Linked DNA regions of Homo sapiens: region 2 is linked to region 1. The links come from fine-mapping of genetic effects on gene expression. A gene starts in region 1. The other region holds a variant in brackets. All regions are shown on one strand. Distances are from middle to middle.

Region 1 (5,383 bases):
CCAGGGAGGTGCAGGTTGCAGTGAGCTGAGATTGCGCCATTGCACTCTAGCCTGGGTGACAAGAGTGAAACTCCAACTCAAAAAAAGAAAAAAGAAAAAAAAAAGAAAGTGAACTATTTGTGGAAGATGGAGAAATATATGTAAACCTAATTATAACAATTATTAAGGGTAGATTCAGAGTAATATGGACAGAGTAGCATTTTAAGAGAAATGAGTGTGGTACAACACAACCAGACCATGCTGTCAGAACTCTTCATTCTTTGGTGCAACCCTTCACCCTCCTATAACATGTGTTTCCCACAAAGCAGTTTTTTAAAGCACAGTCTCCTGGGACCATCTCCATCAGAAGCACTTAGACTACTCACCTTAAAATGCAGATTCCTGAGCACCTCTGCAGACTTACAGCAGGAGCCCAGGAATCGATATCTTATTAAGTACCCTAGGTAATTCCAATGTATATTAAAAGGTGAGAACTACTGCCATGGAGATTTGAAATATTTTCTGGGGCTATATTTTCAACCGTAAGCATGTTAGAATTATTTAAGTTTGATCAAAATTTTAGAACACATAATAGGAAAAAATCATACATTGGTCAAGGGTTGGGATAAGCAATGTGTGAAATGACATTGTATAAAAGGTCCCTTCATATTTTTAGATTGTAATCACTGTTGGTGAACTAGACATACTCAAAAGTGGCCCTCAAGAAATAAGTTTTGTTTTGTTTTTTTTTTTTTTTTTTTTTGAGACGGAGTCTCGCCTTGTAGCCAGGCTGGAGTGCAGTGGCATGATCTTGGCTCACTGCAACCTCCGCCTCCCGGGTTCAAGCGATTCTCCAGCCTCAGCCTCCCGAGTAGCTGGGACTACAGACACGTGCCACCATGCCCAGCTAATTTTTGTATTTTCAATAGAGACGGGGTTTCACCATGTTGGCCAGGATGGTCTCGATCTCTTGACCTTGTGATCTGCCCGTCTCGGCCTCCCGAAGTGCTGGAATTACAGGCATGAGCCACCGCGCCCGGCCAAGTTTAGTTTTTTAGTTCGTTTTTTATCAGGTTTATAGCTAACTTGGAATCTGGAATCTGTGCCTGACTAGATTTACAGGGGATTTGTACAGGAAGCCCCAGAATGCACCCACCTATTTCAAGAGCATAGCAAACAGCATTCACCCAAGCATTCATCTACAGTCTGGTATTCATACACTAAGAAGCAACGTTCTTTGGGCATTACCTCCAACAGGGTAATAGCTCCAGTGAAATCTCTTTTTGAAAGTAGCTCCTCTAGTTTTGGAATCTTCCTACCTTTCTTCTTTCTTTTGTCAGTGTGCTGTACGCCTCTGCCTACAGCAGGTTTGGCCCTTGAAAGCATCTGTAAAAGAAACAAAGACAGCTGTATGGTCCAATTCTGATTATCAGATTTAAACTGAGAGTGACAGCTCTGTAATTTATAAGTCAAGGCCGGGCACAGTGGCTCATGCCTGTAATCCCAGCACTTTGAGAGGCGAAGGCGGCGGATCACGAGGTCAGGAGTTGGAGACCAGCCTGGTCAATATGGTGACACCGCATCTCTACTAAAAATACAAAAATTAGCCGGGCGTGGTGGCATGCGCCTGTAGTCCCAGCTACTCGGGAGGCTGAGGCAGAAGAAACGCTTGAACCTAGAGGCAGAGGTTGCAGTGAGCCAAGATCGCGCCACTGCACTCCAACCTGGGCGACAAAGCGAGCCTCCATCTCAAAAAAAAAAAAAAAATTATAAGTCAAATCCTTAACAACGAACCCCAGGGAAGCCTATTCAAACTCGTTTTGTAACAGGTATTCTACTAGAAGAGCCATCAGCCAATACTTAGGAAGGACCAAACAGCTACTCCCAACTTTTATCTTCTCTGGCTAGAGATGCTTTCGCATTGCTTCTGTCATCTCAGCTTTCCCTTCCTCTGCTTCCCATCCCACGAGTGGTTTAAATGTGAGTAAACGGAAAAGCAGGAGGGAAGAAAGCACCGAGGTATTTACAGTTGCATCCCTGTCCCCCGTGGGAACACAGGGAGAGCTGGGGATTACTCTCTGCGGACACACCTAGACTTCACACAGAAGTGTGCTGGGAACCTCTAATCGCCAGCCTCAGGACCTACTCAAAGTACTCCCTTACTATTCAGAGCCACTAACCATCTTGACGTCGGTCTTGTGAGTCCCCACCACACAGCGAAGGCCGCGCCTCAGCGTTTCGCCGCATCCACACAGCACGTTCTGTCTCCACGGTAACCCCGCCTGGACGCTGGTACGAACGGGAGAAAAGCTCGTTGGAGAACCAGCGCCCGCGGCTTCTTGGTTCCGTGCAGCTTCTGCCGCGGAAGAGCCGAGGTTCCTCTTGGGAGGAGAGCGTCGTTCTCTGGGCTGAGAGCGAAAGTTTGGTTGTCTCTATTTATGAGTTTACTTTAGGAAAAGGCGAATTGGAATGGCATTGTTTTTCAAATGCAAGTTTTCTGGGAAAGAAATTTTCAGGGACCACTTCTGTTTGGGGCCGTGTTGGACTCCATAGCAACCCTTGACTATGTGCACCGCAGAATCTTGGTCTCTGGCTGGTGCGGGAAGCTTAGAAAATTTCTGCTGAAGGAGTTGTAGTTCTGTGATTTGGAAGCAGGAGTGCACCAAAATACAGTTTCCTATTTCCACAGATACACCTACACACAATAGAGAACTGTAATAAATATTTGTCGATTGGATGACTTAATTTATCTATCTTACTCCTGAACCCAGTTAATACAGGGGCAACCACAGTCTTTAAATTCACGAAATCGTGGAATGTTAGAGTTGGAAGGGACCTTACAGGACCTCTGGTCAACCCCTCAGAATTAACAGACTGAAGAACTAACATCTTGTTAGTTAACTAATGTCAGCCTAAAATAACCAAAAAGCTCAGGGATCCAGTTGAAAGAGTTTATTCAAGTGCAAAGTGTGAGGGCGGCTATCCCGGGAACCACTGACAGCAAAGAATGGTGATCAGTGCTCCCTGATGCAGGGAAAGGTGAGGGTCATTTATATCACCAAAAACAGGAGTGCTGTACGTAATTACAGCATTTTCTAGATGAGGCTAACGTACACAGAAGATTCAATTCACTACTATTGATTACACTGTAAGGGGGTTGTTTAATATTCTATTGTAAAGAGGTAACAATCACAAGGGTCTCTATCTCCAACGTCATTTAGTCTGAATAAAGAATAAAAAATCTGGTTAATATATAACATCAACACAAAGATCAGGAAGCAACAGTCATGCACCAGAGAAGAAAAACAGCCATGTTCTGTGATTTAGTTTACAGGGCTTAACTTTTCCCCTTGGCATAGTACGTTTGGAAAGTGCTGAAATTTTCTTTTCACATTTTCCCCTTTTCTTCAAAAGCTTTCAGAGAAAGCATTATAGAAGAATTATATTCTCAGGCCGTGTATTTGATCAAACCTCATGTCACTAGGAAGGCCCCTTCCTGGCAGTCACATCCCAGGGAGGAGGGGAAATTGGAAAGGACCAAGTCCGAATTATAAAGCAACAAGAGAAAGTAGTTCTGGAACCTGATTCAGGCTACACGGCTGCCTCTTCAATCAAACAATTCTCTGAGTAGTCTTTGTTCTACACATTTTCTCAGCTGTGTGTTGACCCAATTGCAGATAAATACCATAACAGCTCTGCAGACAAAGGCAAGACAAAACACAAACTATGATAATTCCTAAAATACATAACAGCTTTTGCCACCAAGTTCCCCAAGATCCAAATCAATTACTTAACCAGTAGCTTAGAGAGGGTTTTGGATCCGAAAGGTTAATTATTAGAGTTTTTCAAATCAGTTATTAATTTGGTGACGTTATTTGATTCATCTGGGATATAAACACAGCATTCAGTTTCTGTCATAGCACAGATTCCTCCTTGGGCTGCAGTGAGTATGTCTAAGACCATACAGTTTTGTAATACAGTCTTCTCATGACAGTAACTTCATTATTTAATAATGAGACATTCATGTGGCTGTTATTTAGGGCCTTTTGTGTGTAATTGGTTAGGGCCTGTACATGGCAAATGACATCTTCAATACACAGTTGTGGTACAAAGACAGAAGTGAATCTAAGTGGCTTCTGGAAGGTAAGCACTTTCTATTTCTTCTGTTAAAGACACTATTGCGTAAACCTTTACAGTAAGTTCCAGATTCATCCTTTAAATAACATGCGTCTGTAAACCAAACAACATTAGCCTAAGTAAGAAAAGTCTCTTGCAGATCAGTCCTAGGAGAAAACAAGTTTATCAGTTAGAGTTATGCAATTGTGTGGTGTTTCATCTGAAAGTGAAGGAAGAAGAGTTGCAATATTTAGCTTGTTACATCTAGAGATGGTGACATGAGAAGCTAAAAGAAGTGAAACTTTCTATGAAGTTAGTCTACTCATTGAATAACGTTGAGTGTGGTTCAAGTTTAGCAATGCTTCCACAGAATGAGGGATGAAAACAGTAAGGGGAGTTTTAAACAATTTCTTTTCTCTCAGAGTGTAAGGAGAAAAGGAAAGGCCCCTTTAAGTTCCATGGAGCACCCCCATTCTTTATTATCTGACTCCACCTGTTGTTCTTTCCTTTTTAGTTTTTGGCAGTTCGTTTTAATGTGATCAGGCTTTTTGCATTAATTGAAAGTGTATGGTTAAGTCTATTTGCGGATTTATAAGGATATCTTGAAGGTCCAAATTGTGTGGACATTTGTTTCGACTGTAAAATCATAATTTTATTAGCCTTGCTCTTTTGTTTGGCCTCCTTCTCAGATTTGTCTTCAGTTATGAGACAACTGGGCAGCAAGACTGACCAAATTATGATTTTGAGAAGTGGCCCAGCGAGGGTTTTGTCTTTTCATTATTAGTGCTAATTCTTCATCTAACCTATTTATAAAACTGGAGTTGAGAAGAATATCATTTTGATTATTAGCTTAGCTTTCTTCAGATAAACCCGAATATTGTTTAAGTTTACTCACACCTCTCAAAATATGATATTACTGACTCATCTGGATTTTGTTGACCTTGTTGTATTTTACTACAGTCAACTACTCTTAGAAACAGTGAGGAGTGGCTTGAAGCAATGCCTTTGCAGTTTTGTGTGTCTGCCTACAGTCCTGAGCATTTATGAAAGTCTTCTAAGAGATTTCTATAATGGGCCTTGTCTGTCTAATCTTTTTTTTTTTCTTTATACTTTAAGTTCTAGGGTACATGTGCACAACGTGCAGGTTTGTTACATATATATACATGCGCCATGTTGGTGTGCTGCACCCATTAACTCATCATTTACATTAGGTATATCTCCTAATGCTATCCCTCCCCCCTCCCCCCACCCCATGACAGGCCCCAGTGTGTGATGTTCCCCTTCCTGT
Region 2 (5,383 bases), 31 kb after region 1:
TTTTTTTTTTTTTTTTTTTGAGACAGAGTCTCACTCTGTCACCCAGGCTGGAGTGCAGTGGCGTGATCTCAGCTCGCTGCAACCTCCGCCTCCCCGGTTCAAGCGATTGTCCTGCCTCAGCCTCCCGAGTAGCTGGGATTACAAGCATGTGCCACCACACCCAGCTAATTTTTGTATTTTTTAGTAGAGATGGGATTTTGCCATTTTGCCTGGGCTGCTCTCAAACTCCTAGGCTTAAGCAATCTTCCCAGCCTCCCAAAGTGCAGGATTACAGGCATGAGCCACCGCTCCCGGCCTTGTTTGACTTTTTTTTTTTTTTTTTTTTTTTTTGTGACAGAGTCTCGCTCTGTTGCCAGGCTGGAGTGCAGTGGCGTGATCTCAGCTCGCTGCAACCTCCGCCTCCCCGGTTCAAGCGATTCTCCTGCCTCAGCCTCCCGCGTAGCTGGGACTACAGGCGCCTGCCACCACGCCTGGCTAATTTTTTTTCATTTTTGTATTTTAGTAGAGACGGGATTTCACTATGTTGCCCAGTCTGGTCTCCAACTCCTGAGCTCAGGCAATCCGCCCACCTCAGCCTCCCAAAGTGCTGGGATTACAGGCGTGAGCCACCGCGCCCGGCCTTGACTTCTTAACTAGCTACTTACATTGTCCAGTAACTATATGAAGTTATTAATTCAAAAATTTATTTTGCCTGCATGATTTCTGTTAACTGTTTCAAGCAGGCTGCCTAAGGGTCTTTACCTTGCTTTGCGGTTTTTGCCGATGTGGGTGTTTCCTCTGGGTTCTTTCCTGTTTGTATGTCTTTCCTTTTCGGTTAATTCACATTTTGGGTGGGGGTGGGTAGATGGGAAGAGGACTAGTTGACTGTTTCGCAAGTTGAATAGAATACTGAAAAACGCAAGCATCAGAGAATATTTATTCTGAACCCATAAAAGTTATAACTCACCTCCTGGGATAAATAAGTGTTCACATTTTTCAGTTTTGCTCCTCTTTTAAAATATACTAAACAATCATAACAGACCTAAGGTTATTTTTTTCTCATCCCCAGTCTCATTTCCCTTTCCTAAGAAGCAGCTTCAATCATGATTTTGGTGTGTATCTTGTCCTTCCATGATTTTATAATTTCCTCTTGTATATGTTTGCATCCATATACAAAATGTAGTATTTTATGTGTTTTAGAATTTTTATTCAATGCTGTGTTTTGGAGATCTATTCATATTGCTACACAAGGACCTAGTTTATTCATTTTAACAGTTGAAAAGTATTTCATCATAGGATTTATACCACAGTTCAGTTACCTATTCCCCCCAGTAATGGATATATAGTATATTTCCAGGTTTTTGTTATACCAAATCGTGCTGCCAAGAATTTACGTGCAAGTGTTTCCTGGTGCTCATGGTTAGAGCTTTTCCAGGGTAGATCATTAGGAAGTGGAATTGTTGGTTTGAATTGTTACATAGCTTCAACTTTTCCAGATTCTGACGAATTAGTATAAAGGTGGCTGTGCCAATTTATACTTATATGTCTGAGTGTCCCAGTTTCCTCATTTTCTGGCCAATTAATGCTTGGTGTTATCAGACTTTTTTGGCTTATGCCAGTCGGAAGGCTTTGAAATAGTCATTATTTGAATTCAAAAAAAATTTTTTTCCTGGGCTGGGTGCAGTGGCTCATGGGTGTACTCCCAGTGCTTTGGGAGGCCAAGATGAGAGGATTGAGGACAGGAGTTCAAGACTAGCCTGGACAACATAGTGAGACCCCATCAAAAAATAAAAAAAAAATAAAAAAATAAAAAAATAAAAAACAAGTAAAATAAATAAAAAATAAAAATAATTATATAAAAAATATTAGCTGGGCGTGGTGGTGCATGCCCATAGTCCTAGCAGTGCTGGAGGCTGAGGCAGAAGGATTGTTTGATCCCAGGAATTTTGAGGTTACAGTGAGCTATGTTCATGCCAGTGCACACCAGCCTGGGCAACAGAGTGTGGCTCTGTCTCCAAAAAAATTTTTTTACAACAAATTTTAAAGTTTTTGTATTAAAGTTTTTATTTTATATATATCATATATAAACACACACACACATATACATATACATATACATATACATATACATATATATATACTTTTTTTTTTTTTGAGACAGGATCTTGTTCTGTCACCACTCTGGAGTGTGGTGGTGCAAATATGGCTCACTGCAGCCTCCACCTCCTGGATTCAAACGATCCTCCCATGTCAGCCTCCCAGTAGCTGGGACCAGGCTAGTGCCACCATACCTGGCTAATTTGTGTGTGTGTGTGTGTGTGTGTGTGTGTGTGTGTGTGTGTGT[A/GTGTA]TAGAGACAGTGTCTCACTATTTTGCCCAGGCTGGTCTCGAGTGCCTGGGCTCAAGCATTCCTCTTGCCTCAGCCTCCCAAACTGCTGGGATTACAGGCATGAGCCACTAAGCCCAGCTCAGCATGATTTATTACTGTTAAATATTTAGACATTTGTATCCAAGCCTCCATTTATAACCTTGCTCTGGGCCCCACCAATTTTAGAGAAGGTCTACTCTGATTCCCTGAAATGTCTTCATTGTTTTCTTTTGCATGAATGTACACAATTTATATATTGATCTTCTTATTATTAAAATTGAGACTGGCCTCAGTAGCTAATATCTGTAATCCCAGTACTTCAAGAGGCCGAGGTGGGAGAATCTCTTGAAGTCAGGGGTTCGAGACCAGCCCGGGCAACATAGCTCCTACAAAAACATTAAAAAATAAAATTAGTTGGACACAGTGGCACACACCTGTGGTCCCAGTTACTCAGGAGGCTGAGGCGGGAGGATCACTTGAGCCTGGGAGGACAAGGCTGCGGTCAGGTGCAGTTGCGCCACTGCCCTCCAGCCTGGGCAATAGAATGAGACCCTGCCTCTGAAAAAACAAAGTAAAATTGATATTGTTTTAAGTATTTGCTATTAAACCATTATGCTTTGAACATTTTGGTATATGCTTCTTTGTGTACATGTACATGAGTTTCCCTAGAGATCTAGTAGTGGAATTTTGATTTTTTTTTTTTTTTATTGATCATTCTTGGGTGTTTCTCACAGAGGGGGATTTAGCAGGGTCATAGGACAATAGTGGAGGGAAGGTCAGCAGATAAACAAGTGAACAAATGTCTCTGGTTTTCCTAGGCAGAGGACCCTGCGGCCTTCCGCAGTGTTTGTGTCCCTGGGTACTTGAGATTAGGGAGTGGTGATGACTCTTAACGAGTCTGCTGCCTTCAAGCATCTGTTTAACAAAGCACATCTTGCACCGCCCTTAATCCATTTAACCCTGAGTGGACACAGCACATGTTTCAGAGAGCACAGGGTTGGGGGTAAGGTCATAGATCAACAGCATCCCAAGGCAGAAGAATTTTTCTTAGTACAGAACAAAATGAAGTCTCCCATGTCTACTTTCTACACAGACACAGTAACAATCCGATTTCTCTATCATTTCCCCACCTTTCCCCCTTTTCTATTCCACAAAACCGCCATCGTCATCATGGCCCGTTCTCAATGAGCTGTTGGGTACACCTCCCAGACGGGGTGGTGGCCGGGCTGAGGCGCTCCTCACATCCCAGACGGGGCGGCAGGGCAGAGGCGCTCCCCGCATCTCAGACGATGGGCGGCCTGGCAGAGACGCTCCTCACTTCCTAGACGGGATGGCGGCCGGGAAGAGGCGCTCCTCACTTCCCAGACTGGGCAGCCGAGCAGAGGGGCTGCTCACATCCCAGACGATGGGCGGCCAGGCAGAGACGCTCCTCACTTCCCAGACGGGGTGGCGGCAGGGCAGAGGCTGCGATCTCGGCACTTTGGGAGGCCAAGGCAGGCGGCTGGGAGGTGGAGGTTGTAGCTAGCCGAGATCACACCACTGCACTCCAGCCTGGGCAAGATTGAGCACTGAGTGAGCAAGACCCCGTCTGCCATCCCGGCACCTCGGGAGGCCGAGGCTGGCGGATCACTCGCGGTTAGGAGCTGGAGACCAGCCCGGCCAACACAGCGAAACCCCGTCTCCACCAAAAAAATACGAAAACCAGTCAGGCGTGGCGGCACGCGCCTGCAATCGCAGGCACTCGGCAGGCTGAGGCAGGAGAATCAGGCAGGGAGGTTGCAGTGAGCCGAGATGGCAGCAGTACAGTCCAGCCTCGGCTCCGCATCAGAGGGAGACGGTGGAAAGAGAGGGAGAGGGAGACCGTGGAAAGAGAGGGAGAGGGAGACCGTGGAAAGAGAGGGAGAGGGAGACCGTGGAAAGAGAGGGAGAGGGAGACCGTGGAAAGAGAGGGAGAGTGGAATTTTGATTCTTAAAGTTTTATGTGATAATGCCAAATTGTTTTCCGAAGTGTGTTTGCCAAGTTATACTCCCACCAGAAGAATAAGAGCCTTCCCTTGCCTCACATAGTGGCCAAGTGGTATCGTCAGCTTTTAAAAATTTGTGCCAATACAAGGAATGTGAAATTGTATCACTGTGGTTTTTTTTGTTTGTTTTTGTTTTTGTTTTTGTTTTTTTTTGAGACAGAGCCTCGGTCTGTCGCCCAGGCTGGAGTGCAGTGGTGCAATCTCGGTTCAGTGCAGTCTCCGCCTCCTGGGTTCACGCCATTCTGCCTCAGCCTCCTGAGTAGCTGGGACTAGAGGTGCATGCCACCACCCCTGGCTAATTTTTTTTTTTTGTATTTTGGGTAGAGACAGGGTTTCACCATGTTCGCTAGGGTGGTCTCGATCTCCTGACCTCGTGATCTGCCCACCTTGGCCTCCCAAAGTGCTGGGATTACAGGCGTGAGCCACCGCGCCCAGCCCTCATTGTGGTTTTAATTCTTTATATATTCTGGATCTCTAGCCCTTTTAAGTCTTATTACTCATTTTTTTAAGTTTGTCTTACTTGGCATCTTAGTAGTTGCTTCTTATTCGCATTTTACTTTTTTGGTCATCATAGCACTCTATTTTTGTTTGTAACAGTTTTTGTTTGTTTGTTTTTTACCATTTTAAAAATGGCTAAAACTATTTTTATTTATTTTTTGAGATAAAGTATTTATTTTTTGTTTGTTTTTTACCATTTTAAAAATGGCTAAAACTATTTATTTTATTTATTTACTTTTTTGAGGTTTATTTATTTATTTATTTATTTATTTTTTGTTCTGTCACCCAGGCTAGAGTGCAGTGGTGTGATCTCAGCTCACTGCAACCTCCGCCTCCTGGGTTCAAGCGATTCTCTTGCCTCAGCCTCCCAAGTAGCTGGGATTACAGGCACGCGCCACCATGCCTGGCTAATTTTTGTATTTTTAGTAGAGACAGGGTTTTGCCACATTGGCCAGGCTGCTCTTGAACTCCTGACCTCAGGTGATCTGCCCTCCTGGGCCTCCCGAAGTAAAACTATTTT

What was found. PIP is the estimated chance that this variant, and not a neighbour inherited with it, causes the effect. A credible set is the group of variants that fine-mapping cannot tell apart.
Region 2: its variant is the best candidate, but not a certain one, in a credible set for the expression of IFT56 in whole blood (INTERVAL, PIP 0.82).

What each region holds. Positions count from the first base shown.
Region 1 is chr7:139,130,637-139,136,019 of GRCh38, reverse strand. IFT56 (intraflagellar transport 56) reads right to left here and starts at 2,242. Exons shown (of 18, transcript NM_024926.4): 1 at 2,160-2,242; 2 at 1,228-1,365. The coding sequence starts at 2,162. RefSeq lists enhancers at 2,226-2,405, 2,123-2,417.
Region 2 is chr7:139,099,669-139,105,051 of GRCh38, reverse strand. All of the region lies in intron 1 of ZC3HAV1 (zinc finger CCCH-type containing, antiviral 1), which reads left to right. Among named protein-coding and RNA genes, the nearest start is that of ZC3HAV1, 7.4 kb to the left of the region's middle. RefSeq lists an enhancer at 2,706-3,277. The variant A/GTGTA (reference allele first, on the strand shown) is at 2,324.